Regions from separate parts of the Homo sapiens genome. Here region 1 is linked to region 2. The links come from fine-mapping of genetic effects on gene expression. A gene starts in region 2. The other region holds a variant in brackets. All regions are shown on one strand. Distances are between the middles of the regions. Region 1 overlaps CATSPERT (catsper channel auxiliary subunit tau). Region 2 holds the start of TMEM237 (transmembrane protein 237).

Region 1 (8,000 bases), 43 kb after region 2:
TTACTGATTTCTAGTTTTATTCCATTGTGGTCTCAGAAGATACTTGATATGATTTTAATGTTTTAAAATTTGGTAAGACTTGTTTTGTGTCCTAAGATATAGTCTGTCATGGAGAATTTTCCATGTGGTGATGAGAAGAGTATGTATTCGGTAGCTGTTGGATGAAATATTCTGTAAATGTCTGTTAGGTCTATTTGGTTTAATGTGTAATTTAAATCCCATGTTTCTCTGTTAGTTTTCTGTCTAGATGATCTGTCTAATGCTGAGAGTAGTGTGTTAAAGTCCCCAGATATTATTGTATTGGAGTCTATCCTTCCCTTTGGATGTAATACTATTTATATATCTGAGTACTCTGGTGTTGGGTACATAATATATTTAGAATTGTTATATCCTCTTGCTGATTTGACACATTTATCATTATATAATGACCTAATGACCTTTTTTTAAATTGTCTCTTTACTGTTTTTTACTTTAAGTCTATTTTATCTGATATAACCATAGCTACTTCTGCTCCTGGCATAGCTATTCTTGGAATATTTTTTTCTATCCCTTTACTTTCATTCTGTATGTGCCTTTACAGATGAGATGAGTTTCTTATAGGCAGCATATAGTTGGGTCATGTTTTTTTTTTTAATCAACTTTTTTGCATTTTTCTTTCTTTCTCTTTTCTTTTTTCTTTCTTTCTTTGTTTGTTTCTTTCTTTTTTTTTTTTTGAGACAGGATCTTACTCTGTCACAGAGGCTGGAGTGTAGTGGCATAATCACTGTTCACTGCAGCCTCAACCTCCTGGGCTCAGGTGATCCTCCCAACTCAGCCTCCTGAGTAGCTAGGACTGTAGGAACTCGCCACCATGCCTGGCTAATTTTTATATATTTTGTAGAGACGTGGTTTTGCCACGTAGCCCAGGCTGGTCTGGAACTCCTGGGCTCAAATGATTTGCCCACCTTGGCCTCCCAAAGTGCTGGGATTATAGGCATAAGCCACTGTGTCCAGCGTATTTTCTTTGTAGTATTGGTGAAGTGCAGTAGTGAGAAGTGGGGAAAGCATTTTGATTTTTTTAAAAACATGCATTAAAATATTCCTCGAGGGTCACATGCCCAGAGAGAGCATGAGAGCTCCATGCCCCTTCCCCTCTACCAAAATTTTAAAAAAAAGTGTATACACATTATTATCATGGTGACTGAGTTTTTTGGCATTCAGTTAAGTTTTGTGCCTGAGGCTGGGTATGATGGCTCATGCCTCTAATCCTAGTACTTTGAGAGGCCAAGGTGAGAGGATCACTTGAGCCCAGGAGTTTGAGGCTACAACGAGCTATGATTGTACCACTGCATTCCATCCTGGGTGACAAAGCAAGACCCTGTCTGCCCCATGACCCAAAAAAATTATGCTGGAGGCAATTACCCTATATGAGTCCCAGCTCAGCCAGCAGGTAGTAGGTGCTAATAAATGCTTATAGAAGGAATGCTTACCATATGTAAAATCTAGCATTGCTGTCCCATAATGCAAGCAGCATTTGTTGCTAGAGCTACATGACAAAGCTCCACAGACTGGGTATTTTAAACCTCAGACATTTATTTTCTCACAGTTTTGGGGCTTGGAAGTCCAAAATTAAGGTGGTAGAGTTGGTTTCTTCTGAGACCTCTCTTCTCAGCATATGGGATTAGGGTCCACCCTGATGACCTCATTTTAATCTAATTACCTCTTTTAAAATCCTATCTCCAAATACAATGACATTCTGAGGCACAAGGAGTGAGGATTGCAACGTATGCATTTTTGGGAAAGGCAATTCGGTTTTTAACTAGAGTAAACTCTTAAGTATTGATTACCATATACCAGGTACTGTATATTAGTTGCTTTCTTTATATTAATTTTGTGTGTGTGTGGACAGAGTCTTGTGTGTGTGTGTGTCCCCCAGGCTGGAGTGCTGTGGCAAAATCATAGCTCACTACAGCCTTGAACTCCTGGGCTCAAGCAATGATCCTACCTCAGCCCACAGGCATGTGCCATCACACCAGGCTAATTTACTTTTATCTTTTGTAGAGATGGGGGCCGGTATCACTAGGTTTCCCAGGCTGGTCTCGAACTCCTAGGCTCAAGCAGTCCTCCTGCTTTGACCTCCCAAATTGCTGTGATTACAGGTGTCAGCCACCATGTCTGACCTATTTATATTAATTTCCTTAAGTCTCACAAGAGCCCCATAAAATAGGTTCTGTTATGATTCAGCAAATTGCATGCAGCATCTCTGGGTTAGAGAGGTTAAGTAACTTGCCCAGGGTAACACAGCCAGAGAGGGCAGAAGCAAAATGTAAACTCAGTAGGTCTGGCTTCTTTTACCCAAATCCGAAAGATCGGGTCATGTTTTTTTGATCCATTTAGCCAGTGTATATCTTTGAAGTGGAGAGCTTAATTCATTCACATTCAAGGTTATTATTGATAGGTGGGGGCTTATTCTCATCATTTTATTAATTAATTTCTTGTTTTGTGTGTACTTTGTTCCTTTCTTTCTCCCTTACTATTTATTATAGTTGTTTGGTGGTTTCTGTAGTAGTAACATTTGAATCTTTACTTTAATCTTAACTCTGCAGTTAAATATATTAACTGCTCTCCATAAGTCTTTTTTTTTTTTTTTTTGAGACAGAGTCTTACTCTATCGCCCAAGCTGGAGTGCGGTGGCGCGATCTTGGCTCACTGCAATCTCCACCTTCCGGGTTGAAGGGATTCTCCTGCCTCAGTCTCCCAAGTAGCTGGAATTACAGGTGTGCACCACCACGCCCAGCTAATTTTTGTATTTTTAGTAGAGGTGGGTTTTCGCCATGTTGGCCAAGCTGGTCTCAAACTCCTGGCCTCAAGTGATACACCCACCTCGGCCTCCCAAAGTGTTGGGATTACAGGTGTGAGCCACCGTGCCTGTCCTCTCCATAAGTCTTATCCTGAAGTTTTCCCCACTATCTTTTGGTTTGGTTGAAGCTCATCTTTTAGTAGGTTTCTTGGGAGGGGCTCAAGAGTAAAATGTTATCTGGAATGCCTGTTTCATGTATTTTT[T/A]AAAATAGCCTTGATACATGAATGCTGTTACTTTGTTGGATAAAAATAGACTTGGTTGGATAAAAATCCTTGGCTTGACCTTCCTTGCCTTGAACTTTATAAAAATACAGCTCTGCAGTTGCATTGCTTTGTATGTTGCCCTTGAGAAATATGATGCCAGTCTTATTTCTTATCTTCATAGATAATTTGGTCATTTGCCTGTAGGCAAGATGTCTTTATAAAGCCTAATAATCTTACTAGGACACATCTTGGAGTTGATCATTATGAGCCAGTTTTTCTAGACACATGGTGAGTCCTATCCACATACAGATTTTTCTCTTAATACTTAAATTTTTCTTGGATTATAACTTTAAACATTCGTTTTTCCTCCATTGTTTTGTTTTACTTCGAGGATTTTTCATTTGCCTGCCTTCCAATTCAACCATTTTTCTCTGACCCTTTATGCTTCTTTCTCTATCTCATTATCATTCTCTTCACTGGTTCTTATCTTCTTCAATGCCCCTTATAAAGTTTTTTTGAATCGATGCTACCTTTGGGCACTTTATAATTTAGCATTTATTTCTGGGATGGTTTGTCTTTTTTAAAAATTTCTTTTCTGAATTGATCAACACTCATTTCATTTTTTCTTTCTTCTCTTTGGTCAACTTCTGTTTTAATTGTTGAATAAATGAATGAATTGTTAATTGTAGGCTTAAAAACATCTCCAAATGCTTGTTTGAAGATACTTAATTCAGTTTGAAATCTTATGTTATAATTTACTTCTGTTTTGTGGTTATTTGGGAGGAAGAATTTTTGTCATCTGAAGATTTCTCCCCATTTTCTCCCTATAATAGCTTTTAATGGAGTTGGTCGGATTTTCCGTATTTCTTGGCCATGGTCATTTCTTTGCCATAGTTTAAGTGTACTCTCTTCTTTCAGTGTATTGAAGCAGTTTTTTTTTAAATGGATGAAGTTGTAATTGATGGGAGGTAAGGGGAAAGGAGGGGCATAACCTGTTGTTCTCTTCGGTTTTTCTGGTATGCTTAATTTTCCCCTCTTATATCCTTCTTTCTCTTCCCTGCCATGTATGCAGGGATACCTCTTCTTCTCTGATGCCTTCACCCCAGAAGCAGTGCGCATCATGATGAGCTACTTCTGGTCCTTCTCTTTCAGGTCCCTTCTCTATGGCCATTGCTGTGAACTACCAACTCCTAGACCTGTGGTCAGAATTTTTGTGCTCAATGTTGAACTTTCTCTTTCTCAGGATGATTTTGTCTGTGCTTCCTTTTGTGTTCCCTACTCCTCTCTGTTCTTTTCCAGCATCTCTTAAGATTTCTCTTTCCTTGCTTTCTGTCCCTATAGTGTGTGTGTGCATGTGCATGTATATGTGTGTATATGTGTGTGCATGTGTGCATATATATGTTTGTGTATGTGTGTGTGTGTGTGTGTATGTATATATATATTTGATTGAGTAGAGATTCAGACTCAAAGTATCTCCTATACTAGGGCCAACTGGAATTCTCTTTATAAGCTTTTCAAGATATCCTACTAAATATTCAATTTCTTAACAAACTGAAGAACTATGTACTTTTCTCTTCTTTCATGATTCTCTTAATTTTATATTTGTGTACATTTTTATTTCTCTACTAACTTCTTATTGAGGATAGGGATGAGTTTCTTAATCATATTAATACCCCAATACCGAGGAGACCTGACACTTACTAGAGATTCATACAATAATTATTGAATTGATGTTTCATCTAGTTATGTTTGTCTTTCTCTTCCCAAATCTTAATTTATTTACATTGTAGATGCTGAGAAAAACTCTTAAAGAGTCTGATAGTGAAGAACTGGAAATAACACAGGAGACGCCAAATTTGGTGCCATTTGGGGATGTGGTATGTATGAGTAACCCTCAAAAACCTGTATAAGTTATTTATTATTTGATAATCAAACAGTATATGCAGAAAATGGTTCTCTCTGATGGCGTATTTATGAATTTTTCATTTTTATGAGTCAGAAAAACATTGTAATAATCACTGAAATTATGGAAAACATCCTGATTCACAGAAATAATATCTTCTATATTAGGGATTCCCAAATCTAGTTATATCGGAATTACCTCAGATGCTTTTTATAAAACATTAACTTGAGGCTCCACCTAAGATCTGCTAACTTAGAATCTCTAGGAGAGGAGCCTGGGAATCAGTAATTTTACTGAGCTCTTAAAGTGATTATATTTATTGCTAGATCATGCTAAAGTCTGAAAATTGATCCTGCGCCCCTCCCCGATCCAAAAAACCTCCTAGAAACAAAAGCAAACACCCCCCTCTCTCTTTCACACACACACACACACACACACATACACACACACACCACACAGAGGGAGGACGCAGTATCTAGGCTGAGAACCAGAAAAATCTGTTATTCTGTTTTCAAAGTACAGAACAAGACATGAGAATCTACATGCATATAGAACTGTCAAATATTATGACATTCATTTACAGTTATTTTTATTTTCTGAACACTATTAGAGTGGTAACTGGGTATGAAATAAGAATTTTTCTTGTCCCTCTACCTCCTATCATATACAATGTTTAATATAATATTTCTGTTGTTTTTACTTGGTTTTAAATACTAAACATGGCTAAATATATTTGGCTAATTCTCATATTAGGATTCAGATGTTCCTGCATTTATTTTGTATTTGATTTTTTGGTTAAGCACATGATGCAATTTTCTTTAACATTTAGAAAAACTTGGTGCAAGAGCATGAATATTTTACAGTCCTTGGCATGTTATAGCCAATGAATCATTGCTGAATGAATTAAGTGGTCTTAGGACACTGGATAAAAGAGTTTGTCTGAAATAAGGCACATTTCTTAATTTTATATGCAGGGTGCTATATTTTATCAGTTCTCACCTAATATCAAATAAAAACAATTTAAAGAGTGATGATCAGATTTATGTTAATAATGAATTATTATTCTTTGGCTTTGTATTCTTGTTCATTTTAGGTTTACTTTGAATGTGGCCTGCGCATTTTTCTTCTGTATTTCTGCTTTCCGATGATTTCTATTAACTAGATATTTTTCATGAGAAACAATATTTCAAATGAGAAAAACCAACAACGTGGAGTTTTACTTTTTAAAAATAGAGCTCAGTGTAAAGTGAAAGAACAGTTAACTTTTTAAATGCATTCACTGTCTGTGTTTTTGTTTTGATTGTTGTAGGTTGGCTGCCTGGGCATTCATATAAAGAACTGCAGACATTTTATGCCTAAGAGTATCCTTTCTTTTGATTTAAGAATCATAGTAATTATATCTCACTGTTTCAGTTATCCATTGCTGCATTACAAACCATTCCAAAACTTAGTGGCTTAACACATTGACCATTTTATCATCAATCACTACTGTTCATTCACTATTTGCTTCTTCTGCTTCATGATATAAAAGCTTGGGCTGTTGTCTGACAGTTCAAAAGGGCTAGAATATCTGAAGTGGCCCATTTACATGTCTAGTTGCTTTAGTGGGGATGCATGGAAGGCTAGACTTAGCAGGGATGCTGAAATGGTTGGATCTCTCTCTCTTTCCCTAAGTCCTATCATGTTTTATCCCCCTTTATTAATTTTAATTTAAAAATATATCACAGTAATATATTATTTATCTTGATTACTAGTTGTTGGTGTCCCCTTAAATTTTGTGCTCTAGTTGAGTGCCTTTTTGGCTTACTAGTCCCAACCCTAGTCACATTCCATTACATTTTATTGGTTAATGTAATCATAGAGCCAGCCCAGATTTAGTGGCAGGGGAAATAAAGTGGACTTTTTGATGTGAGAGTAACAAAAGCTTTTCAGCCATCTGTAATCACCTCAATCACCATATAAATGAAAGGAAAAATATATATCTTCTTGTATGATAATGCTAATTTATTTGTAAGTAATGTGTGCTTCCTTTAAACATTTTTAAAAGGATTTAATTTATATTGGTGCTTTTAAACAAGCTGAGTGCTTATTTTTAGATTTATCACAGCATAAAACCAGCCTCATTATGGAGATTTGATGTTTCTTTTTTATATAAAGAGAATTTTGGAAAATAATTCTGTATAATGAGATTTTTGAAGATAGTTAAATCTTGAAACAAAATTGTTTTACTCTGTAGCATTCTATGAAAGATACAATACAGACCAATATAGTATAAATGAACTATATTCTTAAGTGAATTAGAGTAGAACACTTTTTGTCTCAAAATTAAAAATAGGTTAATCTGATATATTTTTAAATATTTTGAATTTCTACATAATTTTCCTTAGGAAAAATTTCAACTATATATTGCATATACTTAGTCACCTTGAAATTAATACATAGCAAAACTTGCAAAGGAATTTTGTTGGAAATGTGAGGTTAAAAATATAAGGGATGTAAGGAAGAATCAACCTTCTTTTACTTATATTGTGTCCACCAGTGATGGGCAAAAATACTATTTTAGAATACTTTTTTTCTATTGTTTAATGCTACATGATTGATTCTTAGGTTTTGGTCTGAATCGTTTAATGTATTAATTTTATAATGTATTATTGTTCAATTACAACAAAATTTATTTCCTGAATATCATTCTATTTTCAGTCAGTTTACAACATTATGCTAATTTATTCATTCGCATCTCTATAAACAAAGCTGTGAAATGTACAAAAATGTGTAGCTTGCTATCCAAAAACGATGAGAAGAACACTGTAATTAAGTTCGATGAAGTGAAGTATTTTTCTGTACAGGTAATGTTAATATCTCTTCTAGATATTAGAATGGCTCCTTATAGTTCCAAATATTCTACCCTAATTCTGTCTTTTTATAAAAATGAGTAGAAAAGAAACAAAAGCAGTAAGTGCCTTTTTATTTGGTATCTTACAGTATTCTATTTCTATACCATGGGCTATAGTGGTGTTTTAAAAAAAGAAACAATTTTACTGCGAAATGCATAATC
Region 2 (17,266 bases):
AGACCACTGCAGTAGCTTCCTAACTGCTCTCTCCTGAGGCCACACTTGCTCTCCCTACGGTTTACACCAACCAGAGGAGTCTTTCAGAAACATGAATCAAATCATGTCACTACCAACAGCTTCCCATCACACTTCCACAACAATCCAACACTTTCAGAGGCCCTGTGTGATCTGGCTCCAGCCACTTCCCTGACCCTATTTCCATACTCCCTGTTGCTTACCGCCCTGCAGCTATACAGGCTTCCTTGCTGTTCCTCAAATGCTCCAAGCACAGTTCGTTTCTCTGCACCACTGCACTTGCTGTTCCCTTGGCCTGGCTTGCCCGTCTCTGCAGAGGCTTCCTGATGTGGCTCCCTGCCTTCCTCCAGATGTCTGCTCAACGCCAACCTTTCAGAGATACTCCAACCTTACTGCCTATCTAAAAAAGCACCCCCATCACTCTCTATCTACCTCATCTTCTTATGAGTACTTATTTTTTGTTGTTTTTTATGTTTGTCTCTCTTCTTCTACAAAATGTAGATTTCATGAGAAAGTGGCCTTGGATTAGTTGAGCCATCTATCGCCAGCACCCAAGACAATGCCTGGCCCAGAGCAGGTGCTAGATGGGCTAGCACAGGGGGCATTTTCATATTTTTCCCTCATATTACTTCCCATCTTCTAACTTCAGACAGACCTGACTATATTAATGAACACTTTAGGATCATGGTTGCTACATATTTCATCAGGTGTGAAGCTACAAGTGATCTCTCCTGCCTGGTTCTTACGTTCTGTGCACTTCCCCTCCCTAGCTGGCTTCCGCCGCAGCATGCGCCTTTGTCGCAGGAAGTCTCACCTCAGCCCGCTGCATGCCAGTGTGTGCTGCACCGGCAGCTGCTACAGTGCAGTGGGTGCCCCTTACGAGGAGGTGGTGAGGTACCAGCGACGCCCTTCAGACAAGTACCGCCTCATAGTGCTCATGGGTATGTCCCAGCATGCACTGTCTCTCCTCCTCCTTGAGAAGTCTTCCTTCTAGATTCAGGTGTCTTGCATTGGGAATAATGGTGAAAGTAGAACTCTTTATGGACCCCCATACAAATACCTTTTTTAAAAAACAAAGCCATTGTACATGTGTGTTTATAAGTAACATTTTATTGTATCAAGCTTTTTAAAAAATCTACAAGTGAATGTGTTATGACATGGTGTCCATGAACTATATAACCAGTATTACGATGTCATTATGACTGAGATTTTTTTTTTGCCTGCTTAGAATTGTTCTGTAAACATAGATGAGTGTTTCCCCAGACAGATCATTAACCTGTATCCTGAAAATAAATTCTTAAGGTCCATTTCCCTGAGAAATATGTTAAATTCTTAAAGTCCATTCCCCTAAGAAATTTGTAACTACTTCCTTTAGAAAAGTATCTAACATCTTCTGGACTGTATCTTTGGTGCTTTATAAAGATCATGGCAAAGATAGTGCAGGAGTGACCTGCTTTTGTGACCATGACTTTTGCAAAGTTGGTCCCTGTAGCAGTAGCAACTTGTATCCTACTGCCTTCGTGTCTGCCTGTTTAGCTTCATGAGCAAGGCAGGTCCCTGTAGAGCAGAACGATGTGCCTTACAGCTGGGACCAGCAATATCATTTGCAGGCCCCATTGTAAAATGCAAATGCAAGGGCCCCTTGTTAAAAAATTATCAAAGATTTCAAGATGCAATAGTAGAGAATTCATCCAAGCACAGTATCCTTCTAAGCATGTGCCCTGTGTAACTGCACAGGTTCTATACCCATGAAGTCGGCCCTGCCTCCGGCCGGACATGGGGGTGCTGATCGATCATCTGTCAGGAATGTGCCCCTGAATTCTGTAAGTCACAGAACCTATAATTGTTGATGCTGGTTTCTGGCTGTCACTTGATAAAAACCTCATTTGAAGAAGAAAGGCAGAGCTCTCTGATTCTCTAAAATGAGACCAGCTAATTCTCATGGCATTCAACATTAGATGAAGTTTGCTGGGGGTCAGGTTCCTGTGATTCCTTACCTCATTCCTGAATGTTGAAACAATGTGGATTACTCCATGGGTCACTAGAAAAATTCCCAAGAGTTTTCTGGGGTTCTTCCAATTTATGAGAAAGGAAGTTACATAATTTCCCTAAAAATATTTGCTCTCAAGTTTCTTCAGTAGAAGGACTAAAATGATAATTCCATCACATAATTATATTTATCCACATCTGATGATTTCTGTGTGTGACTTTTTGTGTTTAGGACCCTCTGGTGTTGGAGTAAATGAGCTCAGAAGACAACTTATTGAATTTAATCCCAGCCATTTTCAAAGTGCTGTGCCACGTATGTTTAGTTCTGCTTTCATAATGGTTTGTGTTTTGGTAAAACTTTCTTTGCTGATCTCATTTAACTATGTCATTCCATCTTTGTTGTAAAAGTATACAACACCAGGGATAGTTCTTAAGTATTTCTAACCATATTTATTTTAATAAGGAAAACTGACTTATTGGAATGTAGGCAGCTGGCTTTTAAAAGGGCTTTTTTCTTTTTTTAATTATTATTATATTTTAAGTTTTAGGGTACATGTGCACAACGTGCAGGTTTGTTACATATGTATACATATGCCATGTTGGTGTGCTGCACCGATTAACTCGTCATTTAGCATTAGGTATATCTCCTAATGCTATCCCTCCCCACTCCCCCTACCCCACAACAGTCTAAAATGGCTTTTTTCTATTTCTTAACATTATAGGGATGGCCTTTCAGGCAAACTAATAGTTAGCAATAATAGTTAACATACACCCAGTGCTTACTATCTAAAAATTGATATATGCCTATACAACTTTATATAAATTTATGAGTATGATTATAAAATACACAGCTTTTTAAAAAATGGTGTTTTCTGGCTGGGCACGGTGGCTCACTCCTGTAATCCCAGCATTTTGGGAGGCTGAAGTGGGTGGATCATCTGAGGTCAGGAGTTCAAGACCAGCTTGGCCAACATGGTGAAACCCCGTCTCTACTTAAAATACAAAAATTAGCTGGGTGTGGTGCTGCATGCCTGTAATCCCAGCTACTCAGGAGGCTGAGACAGATAATCGCTTAAACCTGGGAGGCGGAGGTTGCAGTGAGCCGAGATTGCACCATTGCACTCCAGTCTGGGCGAGAAAGTGAGATTCTGACTCGAAAAAAAAAAAAGTGTTTTCTTATTTCCTTTTACTCGTAACTCCTTTATTTCTCCTAAGCTCCCCCTTTACTACTACCAGCTCCAAAGCAACTCCTAAAACGTAATCTTCCAGACTTTTCTCTATATAGAGTTGTGTGAGTTTTTTACCCATTTAGAGTTGTTATATGAAGTTTTTTTTTAAGCTTTAACATTTGAGAGCTACAATTCTAAAAATAGAAGGAATTATTTGTTTCATACTGAGATTCATCGTTCAAAAAAAACCTTTAAAATCACTCTAAGACAACCTGTTTTATTGTAAAAATAGAAAAGATCAAGACTTGAGATAGAATTCCTGATTTCAACAAAATAGAAAGTTCATAATAATGCATGTTTATAATAATGTATAATAATGCATCGTTTCTAATATGTGTAAAAGAAAGTTAAAATTTTGACTGAGGCACTAAGATGCACATCTGTAACGAGGAATGTGAAAACAAGTTAAACTCTTCACACACCTCGAGGGTATAAAAGGCTTGGGGAGGGAGATTCATGGGGCTTTTTGGGGAGGCTTTTATTGGAGAGAGCGGTGCTGGGTGTTCCCGACCCACTGAGTGTGGGAAGAGTGTGTGGGTGTGCTTGCTTCCCCCTCCCCTCAAGGCAAGACAGAGGAACCTAGGGGAACCACTTGGAGAGCTTCCTATGTGTCTTCTGCACTTTGGGGGACACAGAAGAATGGTGTCCGAATTACACCTGAAAAATCCAAAGGAGAAGAGCTTACAGGAAGTGGCCAATGGCTATAATTTGGGAAGTAGCTGTCCTTGTAGGGTCCATCACAGCTAGACTTGTGATGTTCCCCAAGGACCAGATCTGGGCAGGTAATGTATAAGACAGTCAGCCCAGGGTTATATGATTCCTGCCCAGGAGGAAGCCTGAGGAGAAAAAGGCCAAAAGTGGATTCCCAAATATATCAGGCTTTGGAAGGAATCACAGATGACAAACTGGAATAGGAATGGACTTGAGAGGCCTTGTGTTGGTGAGATAGGGTTTGCAAAATAACCCAATATATCATTTAGGAGAGAAAGAGCCGGATTTAAGGATCTGCCAAATCTAAAGAAAGCCAATAGCAGCCAGAATCAGTATTTGCCAAACCAGAACCTTCCTTCCTGCTTTCCTCTCCCTCCCTGCACTCTAGCCTTAGAGAGTTCTAAACCAGTGGAAGTGAGATCTATCGGGGGCAGAGAGAAGCAGGAGCAGTAGAAATATGGTGAAAGGAAAGAGAAGTGACTCATACTCTCGTCTGGCTCTCGTCTGGCTTCTCTGAGCGCAGGCTTCCCTGGTGCAGCAAATTTGAGCCAGATGTGTGGAGAAGCAGCCTAAAATCTAAGTGAAGTTTATAATTTTGATGATTATGTGAGAATGGAATTTTAATTAGTCAGTTGAGACTGGATGATGAAAATGAAATTGTGGCATGAGTGATGATAGACTTTTAAAATTAAACCTGAGTGAAAGAGTCATGGAAACCGCTAGTGTTTTTTGTTTTGTTTTGTTTTGTTTTAAGACGGAGTCTTGCTCTGTCGCCCAGGCTGGAGTGCAGTGGTGTGATCTTGGCTCACTGGAACCTCTGCCCCATGAGTTCAAGTGATTCTCCTGCCTCAGCCTCCCGAGTAGCTGAGATTACAGGCACCCACCACCATGCCCAGCTAATTTTTGTAGTTTTAGTAGAGATGGGGTTTCACCATGTTGGTCTGTCTGTTCTCCAACTCCTGAACTCAAGTGATCTGCCCACCTCAGCCTCCCAAAGTGCTGGAATTATAGGCATGAGCCACCACACCCGGCCAGGAAACTGCTAGAATTTTGTGCAGGGGCTGGGGAAGATCTTGCCTCACATAAGGGCTGTGGGAGACCAAGAAGTTGCTTTATGATCGCATGCTATAGGCTGTGCTTTCTGAAGTACTGCTTTCATGTACAGGAATGTGCATTAATCTGAAAAGCAAAAACTACCAAAGAAATCAACATTTTCCTTTTCTTTCTTTTTTTTTTTCTGTTTGTTTTGTTTTGTTTGAGATGGAGTCTCACTGCATTGCCCAGGCTGGAGTGCCGTGGTGTTATCTCGGCTCACTACAACCTCACCTCCTGGGTTCAAGCAATTCTCCTGCCTCAGCCTCCTGAGTAGTTGGGATTACAGGTGTACGTCACCATGCCTAGCTAATTTTTGTATTTTTAGTAGAGATGGGGTTTCACCATGTTGGCTAGGCTGGTCTTGTACTCCTGACCCCAGGTGATCCACCCGCCTTGGCCTCCCAAAGTGCTGGGATTACAGGCGTGAGCCACTGTGCCCGGCCAAAATCACCATTTTTCGATAGTCTGAATAAAAATAAAATGCCCACAGAATATAGAAGAATTTTAAGAATATCAACGTAGATTTTTAATCATTCAAAGTGAGAAAATACTGCTCATATTTTGCTTTTTAAATTGAGGTTTTAAGCTTAAAATGGATACCTCGAGTTATACATCAATTCACAGACTTTAACCTACCATATAAATATTAGTCCAGTGGAAGCAAAGGAGGAGTCATCTTGGGTTTAGATTGACATAATTCACTATCACCTGAGAGCTATAAGGTTTTACTAGAATTTTGTTTTAAGTAGGAAGCTATGGGAGATGTGATGTAACTGTAGGAACTCTAAGGATCTGATGAGAGGCTTGAATAAGGAAAAAACAAAAATGACCCCAAGATGACATTTGCTTTTAGACCCCCTTGAAGGTTGGTAACTCCTTTGATAATTTAAGGCCGGTTTCTAGCTTCTACTTGATCATTTCCATGTATTGATATCATCAGATGTTGATCTATTTCATCCTTAAACTTTGTCAGATGCAAATACACAAATTCTGTATGAATAAGGGGAACTAATGGTAATATAGATTAAGGGACTAGCTTTACAGTATATAGGATGCAGAGTTGAAACTGTCTTACTCATCTTTGTGTTTTCAGAACCTAACATGATACCTGGAACATAGTAGGCACTCAGTACACACTAGTTGAATAAATGAATGAGCAGACAACAAATAACTTTTAGATATTTGATGAACTCCTATATTCTATACAACCTGGCACTATTTAAGTTGAAGAGTCTGTAATCAAAGTGGCCATATCAAAGAATCAGACTGAATCTAGACTCAGCTAATCTTTCCCTCCTAGAGATCCCTAAAACGAATCACCACTCGGTTGGGTATTAATGCATCTGGTCAAGATTGCAGAATGTCATGGGCTTTCTCCATTTCAAATTTGAGAATCTATTGTTGTAAAAAACACTCATCTAGAGGAGTCAGAACACGTAGGTTCTAATTTCAACTTCGCTTTTCATCAGTCTTATGAATGTGAGCAAGTTTCTCCAAAAGCTTTTCTTATGAGTAAAATATAGATATTAACAGTTTACCTAAGGTAAGAGTGTGGAAGATGAAATGAGATCATGGGAAATGCACTATCCAAATGTAAGATATTATTGGTATTGCTACCTGGGAGCTTTCAGGCATCTAAAGGTTCACACATAATTCACTAGCACTTATTTTGAAGTAATAACAGGTGTTCCCTTAGGTCTTTCTTATGCTGGCTTAATACCTAGTGCATTCTTTTTCATACCATAAGCACTCAGTAAAGGTTTATAGACTAACTGATTTTGATACGAGAACTTATCACCAATTCAGGCTTCTTCTTTTTAGTTCTAGCATTTTATCTCCTTGATTATATATTCATTTATTTATTTTGATTAGATATCTTTATTCAAATGCATATTGGTAATCAAAGAATTCTGAAGACACTGAAACCTTTCATTCCCTTTTTCTGATAGACACTACTCGTACTAAAAAGAGTTACGAAATGAATGGGCGTGAGTATCACTATGTGTCCAAGGAAACATTTGAAAACCTCATATATAGTCACAGGTAAAGTAGAGGTTCAGAAGCTGATTCTTACCTCTTGTTGTTTTACATTTGAAATAGATTCCCTATTTTTATGTATTTTCCAAATCTCCTGGGTAATTCCTTTTGTTTCTGAGGAGTTAAGCAAGAAATGTACATCGATATACAGCACACCAACTCACTGGGTTTAGAAAGGGAGCAGAATGGAGTCTGCAAACCTTGGAGAACTTGAGGAAATACATAAACTCTAGATATGCTCATTTTGTTCACCTCTTGAATATCTATTCATTCTTTCTGTGTTAATAAAGTCCACATATTTATATTCAACTCTAGTGCAGTTTATCCTCATGTTACTACTAATAATATTTTCCTTGTAGAAAGTGTTCTGTTTTGTTTGGCCTGCTCTTGCAGGATGCTGGAGTATGGTGAGTACAAAGGCCACCTGTATGGCACTAGTGTGGATGCTGTTCAAACAGTCCTTGTCGAAGGAAAGATCTGTGTCATGGACCTAGAGCCTCAGGTGGGTCCATGGTGGAATATTTATGTCCCCAAACAATGAATGCGTATCATCCATTTTTTGTGCACATGCTGTAGGTTATAGTTGAGACATTTATTCTGTTAGCCTTTTAAGAATAAGGCCATTTCCCATATATAAGATCTTACTTAACGTGTCAATTGACAACATTTTACTTTTAGTTGGGAAAGAAGTCTTGCTTCTCAGACAGAAAAGCAGAACTGATTGAGTGGTCACAAAGAGAAGCAAGAATCTTTCTTGCTTTAACCTTGATCACAAAGGCATCAGAGTAACTTCTTGTGGAGTGAATAAGATGTTGCTTTGTACAAGGAGGTGAGGTTTCTATGTTGTCATATCTGTGGCTACCTTCCTGAGACCACATGTAGAATGGAGCAGGGGTGAGCAAGTTAAGGTAAGATAAACAGCATGCAATCCGTAGGCCCAATTTTTATGAACTTTGTATTTTCTTCGTGTGTGTGTGTGTGTCTGTGTGTGTGTCTGTGTTTGTTTTGTTTTTTGAGACAAGGCCCTGCTCTGTCATCCAGACTAGAGCGCAGTGGCATGATCTCCGCTCACTGCAACCTCCGCTTCCCGGGTTCAAGCAATTCTCGTGCCTCAGCCTCCCGAGTAGCTAGGACTACAAGCACAAGCCACCATGCCTGGTTAATTTTTGTATTTTTAGTAGAGACAGGGTTTCGCCATGTTTGCCAGGCTGGTCTGGCAATGGAACTCCTGGGCTCAAGTGATCCACCTGCCTCAGCCTCCCAAAGTGCTGGGATTATAGGCATGAGCTACTGCGCCCAGCCATGTTTTCTTAGTCATTTAGAAATATACTTTGTGTGCTAGAGAATCAGAGGAAAACAGATGGTAGTAGTATCCAATGTGAGATAATAGCAAGAGGAAAGGGAAGTGAAGGTGAAACAGAGCTGATCCACCTTGAGAGTCTGTCTTTGTCTTTGTCATATGAGATCATGTATAGAATCCTACTCTCAGTAAATGAGATTCTCTCATGTATAGACTCTTACTCTGCTAGTAAGATTTCAATTGCTAGTCATAGCTAATAAGAGTCAGGATCTGACCTTAATTTTGATTCTAAAACTACATCTTCAAATTTTTAAAATGTTCATTTGTTTTTTAGAATTGAGGAGTTGAGGGTACATGAGACTATACTCTAAAAATAATTGCTAATTTCTGGTCTTAGAAATTTTGAGAAGCTTCATGTTCACTCTAGAAAGCTAGGACTTCTGTTTTTAAATGTGCATTTAGATCAGGTGCAGTGGCTCATGCCTATAATCCCTTGGAAAGCCGAGATGGGAGGATTTCTTGAGGCCAGGTGTTTGAGACCAGTCTGGGCAACATAGTGAAACCCCATCTCTACTAAAAATACAAAAATTAGCTGGGTGTGGTGGCACACGCCTATAATCCCAGCTACTAGAGAGGCTGAGGCACAAGAATTGCTTGAACTGGGAAGGCGGTAGTTGCAGTGAGCAGAGATCCCACCCCTGCGCTCCAGCCTGGGCAACAGAATGAGACTCAAAAACAAAATAAAACAAAACAAAATAGCTGGGCATGGTGGCACATGCCTGTGGTCCCAGCTACTTGGGAGGCTGAGATGGGTGGATCGTTTGAGCCTGGGAAGCTGAGGCTACAGTGAACTGTGATTGCACCACAGCACTCCAGCCTGGGTGACAGAGCAAGACCATGTCTCAAAACAAAACAAACAAAAAATAAATGTGCATTTAAATTTTCTGTGTAGGATATTCAAGGGGTTCGAACCCATGAACTGAAGCCCTATGTCATATTTATAAAGCCATCGAATATGAGGTGTATGAAACAATCTCGGAAAAATGCCAAGGTTATTACTGACTACTATGTGGACATGAAGTTCAAGGTAAGAGCAAGTCAAAAACTACTGTATTGCTTTCAGTGGCTTCTGCGTGGGAGAGATCTGGGTTGGGCTGGGCCAAGGATCTCTGATCTCATTGTCCTCCTCCTCCTTTTTGACCCCCTCTCCAAAAGGCCCTCAATAAAATGGTTTACTATGGTTTTATTTAAAAAAAAAATTAAAACTGTATTGTTTCTACAGGATCTGTGTTAGAGAATGTAATTTTTGTTTCTAATGGATAATGCCCTTACGATTTATCCTTTTGGATGGACATCACTTACAGATATAAAGTTTAATAAATGTTATGATGCTACCCTTATTTTTTACTTTCTTATTTTTTTGGGTCTAGCTTAAAAAAAAATCCTTGAGCCGTAGTTTGCAAAGCCAAACAGAAATTGGGCATGTATGAGCCTGGTGTTTGTATTTTAAACAGAATATCTTTTACTTAAAAGCTTACTTTAAAAATGCTCAGTGAGTATATCTCATCTGTAAAATGATGATGGTAATAATAGAGGGGGCAAGCCAAGTGAAATTAATCAGTGATCTCATCCTAGAACAGGTGATTTTTTTTCCGGTTGCGTACATATATTTTACATTAAATATGCTTTAAATATTGTGTCATAACATACATTCAGTAAGGTGTACAGAGTGTACAGTTTAATGAATTTTTATGTGTGTATGCACCCAGATAACCATCACCCACATCAAGATATTACAGCCACTTGTGTGTGTGTGTATATGTGTGGTAAAAATACATAAAACTCACCATATTAACCGTTTTAAGTGTACAGTTCAGTGTTAGTATTTAGTGTTAAGTATATTCACATTGTGTGAAACAGAGCTCTAGAATTTATTTACCTGGCAAAATTGAAACTAAAAATATGAATGATTCACTAAATATTTGTATGTCATGCTTGTACAAGGGCCATGCTAATCTCTGCATTGTTTCAGTTTTAGTCTGTGTGCTACCAAAGCAAGCACAGGTATCTTTAAATTATCCTTTCTCTTATTATTTTTATTTTCATATTTTTTGCAATGACTATGGAGGTCTGATTTTCCAGTTTGCCTTGTGAACAGTGGAGTCCATGAATGTATTTGCTGAGTCTTATGGGCATTTAAAATTGTTCTCATTTTTATGGCAGTCTAAACAAATTAACAAAATTGTTTCTGGATCATATGTATGGTCACTTTGTAAAGCCACAAGATTTTGGTGCCTGCATTTGTGTTTCAGATTGTATTGGTGACAAGTTGTACTATTTTCATGAACTAATAAGAAAATAACAGCAATGAATTTAATGCATTAGTGCCAAGTGAATGCCAAATTACCTTCATTAAATGAACATTTCACAATAGTAGAAACATAATATAACTGGCTTATACCATCCTCATGTTGAAAGTGGCCATTTTGTATCTTTAATGTTATCCCTATCAGATTAATGTTCACTTGAAATTTATGTTTAAATTTTATTTAAACTGGTACATTTTCTTTGGTTTTATGTTGTATATGGTTAAAAAGTTTCAAGTGTTTAGGTAAGAGTAAGATAAGTTCACACGGGAAGTTGAGGGGAGTAATCTGTCTGCAAACTATGACTAAATTTTGCAAAACATGACGAGACATTAAGACTAAAGATTAAAACATAAGTTTTGTAGTTTAGAAGACATTTATTGGACCTCATTTTTTAAAATAAAAACTTCAGTCTTTTATTATTTAAAAAAACTTCCAAATTAAAATTTCTTTATCTCAGTAATACATTTCTAAGAAATAAAGGATGACATACTGTGGATAGTGATATACTTTTCCCAGCTTTGCTTATGCTTCACATTAATTTAGAAGGATATGTTTATACCTGTTATAATAATTATATTTTCTCTACAAAAATTAGCTGGGCATGATGGCATGTGCCTATAGTCCCAGCTACTTGGGAGGCCTAGGTGGGAGGATCACTTGAGCCTGGGAGGCAGAGGCTGCAGTGAGCTGAGATGATCCTACTGCATGCCAGCCTGGGACAGAGTGGGACCCTGTCTAAAAAAAAAAAAAATTATTTTATCTATACTTAGCCACATTATTTCAATAACAGAGGGCAAAAAAATTACTATTTTCTAGTTTGCTGGTTTTGTAGAATTTTGAAAAAATATTTTTGAAACTTTATTGAAAATCATCTGTGCAAAATTTTCGGACCTTACTGTTTTTATACATAGTTTCACAACTGAATGTGACAGCATAACAAACTGTATTTTTTCCATTTGTCCAATTAAGTCTGTACTATCCATATTTTTCTATTTCTCCTAAAGGATGAAGACCTACAAGAGATGGAAAATTTAGCCCAAAGAATGGAAACTCAGTTTGGCCAATTTTTTGATCATGTGATTGTGAATGACAGCTTGCACGATGCATGTGCCCAGTTGTTGTCTGCCATACAGAAGGCTCAGGAGGAGCCTCAGTGGGTACCAGCAACATGGATTTCCTCAGATACTGAGTCTCAATGAGACTTCTTGTTTAATGCTGGAGTTTTAACACTGTACCCTTGATACAGCGATCCATAGTTGCAATCTAAAACAACAGTATTTGACCCATTTTAATGTGTACAACTTTAAAAGTGCAGCAATTTATTAATTAATCTTATTTGAAAAAAATTTTTATTGTATGGTTATGTGGTTACCTATTTTAACTTAATTTTTTTTCCTTTACCTCATATGCAGCTGTGGTAGAAATATGAATAATGTTAAGTCACTGAGTATGAGAACCTTTCGCAGATTTCACATGATCTTTTTAAGATTTAAATAAAGAGCTTTCCTAAATAAAATAAGCAATAGTTAACTTTAGAAACTGTACTCTATGAAACGTGTTTTATGAAAACATCTTTTACAAAAAGTGCTTACTTGACTAACTCAGCAAGAAAGGTTTAATGTACACATTTCACATCTAAAATCAAAACCTACAAGAAACTGCACTGCCTTCACTATTTACAAATCGGCCTACAAGGAAAAAATTATTCTCATGAGAGGTGTGACAAACACTAATTTTCCTTAACAGCCAATATCTACATGCAGGCCTAAATTAGAAAAAGGCAATGGATTAATCCCAGAGACCTATATATAGAAAATCACAAGAGTGAAACCGTGTCTCAGAGTTAAAGAAACCAGGGACTAACAGAAATTCTTGAGCATGCAGGACGGCAGATAAAAAACAACTTGCTAAATAAAACGCCTAAACTTCTTCCATTGTGAGATTAAAAAACAAAACAAAACAAAACAAAGCAAACTGGCTGAAAGTGGTTAGTACTAACACGGATGGCTACCTGGAGTCTGTACAAAATGAGCTTGCTGGCGTCACAGCTTGAATCTTTCCCCATGTTTCACACTGACTCCCTCCAAAATTTGCACATGCGACCCATGAAGGGACATGAAGAGGTAACTGCGAACGCCAGAGGATTTTCCAGATGGCTTCTTTCCTTCCACCAATCACCTACTAATCCCAGAATCCACCCCCTAAACGTTTTCTAATAAAAATACTGTCTTAAAGCCAACACAGGGAGACAGATTAGAGCTATACTCCTGTCTCCTTGTTAGCTGACTCACAATGAAAACTTTTCTCAAAAAATCAGCGCCATAATATTGGCTTCTGTGCGTATAGGGCAACAAGCCCCGTTTGTTTGGTAACAAGATTAGGATGCCATTACAAAGTGCTGTTTCTCTTTCTTTCCCCAGATTTGAGATTTCCAGGCGCTTTCCCTGTCCCTGTATCTGTTCATCTTCTGCATCATTCTCTTCTCCATATCCACACCATTCTTCCATCTTTCCCATTTCTTTCTTAACTGTAAAACAGAATGCATGATTCAAAATATTTGTAGTTCTCTGTTACTTAAAGTGAAAGTTATCTTTAAAAAAAAACAAACCCAACCAAACCAAACGATGCAAATCAGGTAGTTTGTAGTGATATTTATGTGAGGTTGGATTTGATTTTAAGGTTGAGAAAAAGTTTTTCCAAATTTGATTTACACAGTTGTGGGATGAAGGGTAAGCAATCGGAGAAAATGTGAGAATTGCCTATATTAATACACATCCACACACCCAGGCCTGCACAGACTCGTTGGTCCTGGAGAGTAAACGCATTCCTCCCAAACCCAGCAGCGCCTGGCAGGACAGAGGCGGGCGGGGACCTGGCTCAGGGGGCGGCTGCCTCGCCAGGCGCCACGAAGCCCCGGCGTCCCACAGGTCCCGGAGGCCGCTGCGTCGCGGGGAGCTGGGCTCGGGCCGCCGGCGGTTGCGCCGGGGCAGCCCCGCGGGGAGAGCACCATGAGGACTGACTCGGGGGCTCGGCTGGAGGAGGGCCACCTGGTGAGCGGCGAGGGGCGCGTCGGCCTCGAGAGGTGGCGGGTAAACAGCTACACTTGGCAGTGGGGGTGGGTGTGTGTGGGGGGGCGCCAACGAGCTGGGAATCACTAAGGGAGGGCCTTGCTCGTGGGGTGCGCGCATCCGCCCCTCCAGTGTTCACAGGAATGGGACGGAGACGCAGGCGAGGCCGGGACCGAACTCCCGGAGTGGGAGAGAGAGGCCTGGCATGAAGTTTGCGGGGACCTGAGCCCGCGTTGCCACGACGACGCCTCACTCATCTGAGGCCCGGGGCCCGGCGGGTGCCGGGGCTTCCAGCCAGGCCTCTCCTAGACTCCTCCGAGGAGAGGTCTGTAGCTGCCCAGAAGAGATCTGTTCGCCTGCGGAGTCCTTTAATTAAGGTCTTCCGTCACGCCCCGCTTCCCGCAAACAAATCACCGCCACCACTTAGGAAACCACGGGAAAGCTGTGATTGCAGCGCCACGGTCGCCAGATTTCTGCTCCTGGGCACATTACCCCCAACTCCGAGGCCCCCTTTTTGGCAGGGCTAGTCTGGACTGGCCAATCCAGGTCCCTGCACGCCTCTCACCGCAACATCCCCGCAGGGCGCTGCGCGCGGGGTACTAGCCAGGCGGCGCGGCCCGATGACGCATTGCGCCTGCGCGCGCGACCGAGCCGGGAGGGGTGGGGCGCCAGGTGCTTGGGGGCCGGCGGCCGCCGAGGCCGGCTAAACGCAGAATGGGGAAGAATCCTGTGGTAAGCGAGCCTTAGCTACTTTTAATTGTTAGGATTTTTGTCTTCAGTTGAGCCGTCCTACTTTTGAGGATTAGAGGTTGGGTCTCTGGGTGGGTGGAACGTCATTTTTGCGGGACTTTTGAAATCAGTTACGTGAACAGAGCCCTGGGATCGATCGCGCGCGCTTCGTAGCATCTTTAGAACAATAGCGCGTTCCTGTGACTGTCATTCTTCTCCAATTGTAATTTTGACTACTGGATGGTATTACGGCAGCTTGCCTCGTCCTAATCTTGTAGTACTTGCATTAATCTACTGTTCGAACGAATGGATTGCTAAATGGGACAAACTACAAGAGTGTCTAAAATTTAACCCTTTTGAATAAATGTCTTATGCAAGCAGCATGAGATACTTGGAACATTAAATTGGCTTCTAGGCATTTCTGTTACTATATGATTCTAAAATACTTCTCAACTGTAATGCTGTCTGAACTACAAACACTTTTCTTATTCATGTAAATGAGGGTTTAGAAGGGTTCCCCCCACCTTTCTTTCTGCCCTAAAACGCATTCTTCCCAGTGTATGCAACTGGCCTTTTTAAAAATTGTGTTAGTATGTGGTTTAAAACCTCCATTTGTTTCCCATTGAATTAAAACAAAATCCAAACTTCCCTTGGTCTGCAAGGCCCTAACTAATCTGGCTCCTGCCTACCTCTCCTTGGTAATTGTGCGGCAGCCTTGCTGTCCTTTTACCTGAAACATTCCAAGCCCAATTTAACCTAAAAATATTTGCATTTGTTCCGGTTGCTGCTTTCTCATTCAGGTCTCAGCTCAAACTCAGAGAAACTTTCCCTAACAAAAGTAGCACTCAGTCTCCTTCATTCATTACGTTTTGTGTGTGTGTATCTTGTGTATATATATATATATGCACACACGATATGTATACAAGATATGTCTTAAATATAGCATATAAATATATTTTATCGTACATGCTGCATATAATATATAGTATATATTATCATATATATATTTTTAACATTGTTTCTAATACTCAACCACTAGAATGTAAGTTTCATAAGAGCAGAGTTCTCTCCATTGTGTTCATTAGTGTATTCCTAATGCTTAGAAAAGGGCCTGGCCTAGAGATGGAAAGGAATGTAGGAAGGAAGGAATTTTATATGAAATTTAGGATGGGAGAACAAATTTTAAATTGCCCATGTTTCTCATCAGTACCTCCCAGGTTTCACTGATGAACAAGATTATCAAGAGATTTGAAGATCCTAGTCTGATCCATTATATTTTTCTGTCATGTCTGAACAACAGACTTTTGAAAGAATTGCTTTGGCCGGGCGTAGTGGCTCACTCCTATAATCCCACCACTTTCAGAGGCCAAGGTGGGCGGATTTCCTGAGGTCAGGAGTTCAAGACCAGCCTGGCCAACATGGTGAAACCCCGTCTCTACTAAAAATACAAAAATTAGCCGGGCATGGTGGTGGGTGCCTGTAATCCCAGCTACTTGGGAGGCTGAGGCAGGGGAATTGCTTGAACCCAGGAGATGGAAGCTGCAGTGAGCCAAGATCGTGCCGTTGCACTCCAGCCTGGGCCACACAGCAATACACCATCTCAAAAAAAAAAAAATAGCGTGATGGTATTTGAAGTAAAGATGCTCTAGGCTTTTACTTACAAGCAAATTTATTTTTTCCGCCACAGCGTCCTCCACGAGCTCTTCCACCTGTGCCAAGGTAAAAATAATTTACAGTAATTTCATTATTGAGCTTTAAAAATGGAAAATGAAGACAGTGGAAAAATTGACTAGTATCATTGCAAAATTACAATGATTCAGGAAACTCTTCTGAAAAATTTAGGGATTTTCTGAAATTTTAAAGGTGAAAAATCCTTGAATTTTAAGAATAACAGTTATAATGGAATGTTATATTTAAAAGCCTGAATATCAACATGGTAGGATAATGGATCCATTCCCTTTCTAACTGTTTTGGTGTCTTTTTTTTTTTAAATCAGAATTCTGGTCTTTTGTGAGAATAGTTTCCTCAGAGTTTAAGCTGATTTTAATCAGTCACAAGTAAGAGTTCTTAATCTGCTTAATCCATTTTATTAATAGACAGTAGGGAATATGTATATGTAGGTTCAGAAAATATTGACATTATTTTATTAGCAGTGTTATTAAACCACTTAATTATAAACAGTAAACTAGTTTGTAAACTAGCTATTATGTGAAAGCTAATTTTATTTTAAATTTGTAATGATTTAAGTCAATTTTCACTGTGAATATTAACAGGTTTCTAATTAATTGTTTCTTTTTTGTCTTTGTCCTGCTGATTAAATTTGTTTGGTGTTATATGACGTGTTAGTCAAGGTGAGTTAGTTTAATGTAAATATAATATTTGGTGTTCAAAAATTAGTTTGATTCCTTGGTTTGTTTCTCTTAAAACTGAGTCTGAATGGTGTAATTTGTAATTCTACAATATGTTTTTGTGAAATAATCTCCCATGACTACCATTTAAAAATTGTCATTGATACATAGCACTAGATGACCTTTCCATTATAAAAGCACTTCATCCCTGAATGGGGTCACCCAGCACATAACTGTTGGCTAATTTGTAGCTCTATAATGAGGACTGCACCTTCCTTTGTCTCATTTAGTCAGGGTAGACAAGGTTATACTATACTAAAACCCCCAAATCTCAGTGACTTAGTGTCACACAGGGTTATTTCTAATTAATACA

What was found. PIP is the estimated chance that this variant, and not a neighbour inherited with it, causes the effect. A credible set is the group of variants that fine-mapping cannot tell apart.
Region 1: its variant is the best candidate, but not a certain one, in a credible set for the expression of TMEM237 in left ventricle (GTEx, PIP 0.87).

Annotation. Positions count from the first base shown.
Region 1 is chr2:201,601,530-201,609,529 of GRCh38, reverse strand. CATSPERT (catsper channel auxiliary subunit tau) reads left to right here. Exons shown (of 16, transcript NM_001168221.2): 2 at 4,833-4,919; 3 at 6,255-6,306; 4 at 7,646-7,791. Among named protein-coding and RNA genes, the nearest start is that of CATSPERT, 14 kb to the left of the region's middle. The variant T/A (reference allele first, on the strand shown) is at 3,043.
Region 2 is chr2:201,639,891-201,657,156 of GRCh38, reverse strand. It overlaps TMEM237 (transmembrane protein 237), which reads left to right and starts at 13,654. Exons shown (of 13, transcript NM_001044385.3): 1 at 13,654-13,798; 2 at 16,233-16,264; 3 at 16,892-16,896. The coding sequence starts at 13,757. It overlaps MPP4 (MAGUK p55 scaffold protein 4), which reads left to right. Exons shown (of 22, transcript NM_033066.3): 17 at 789-959; 18 at 2,240-2,320; 19 at 6,992-7,085; 20 at 7,473-7,581; 21 at 9,332-9,466; 22 at 11,753-12,283. The coding sequence ends at 11,947. It also overlaps the pseudogene RNU6-651P. RefSeq lists silencers at 13,536-13,795, 14,366-14,555.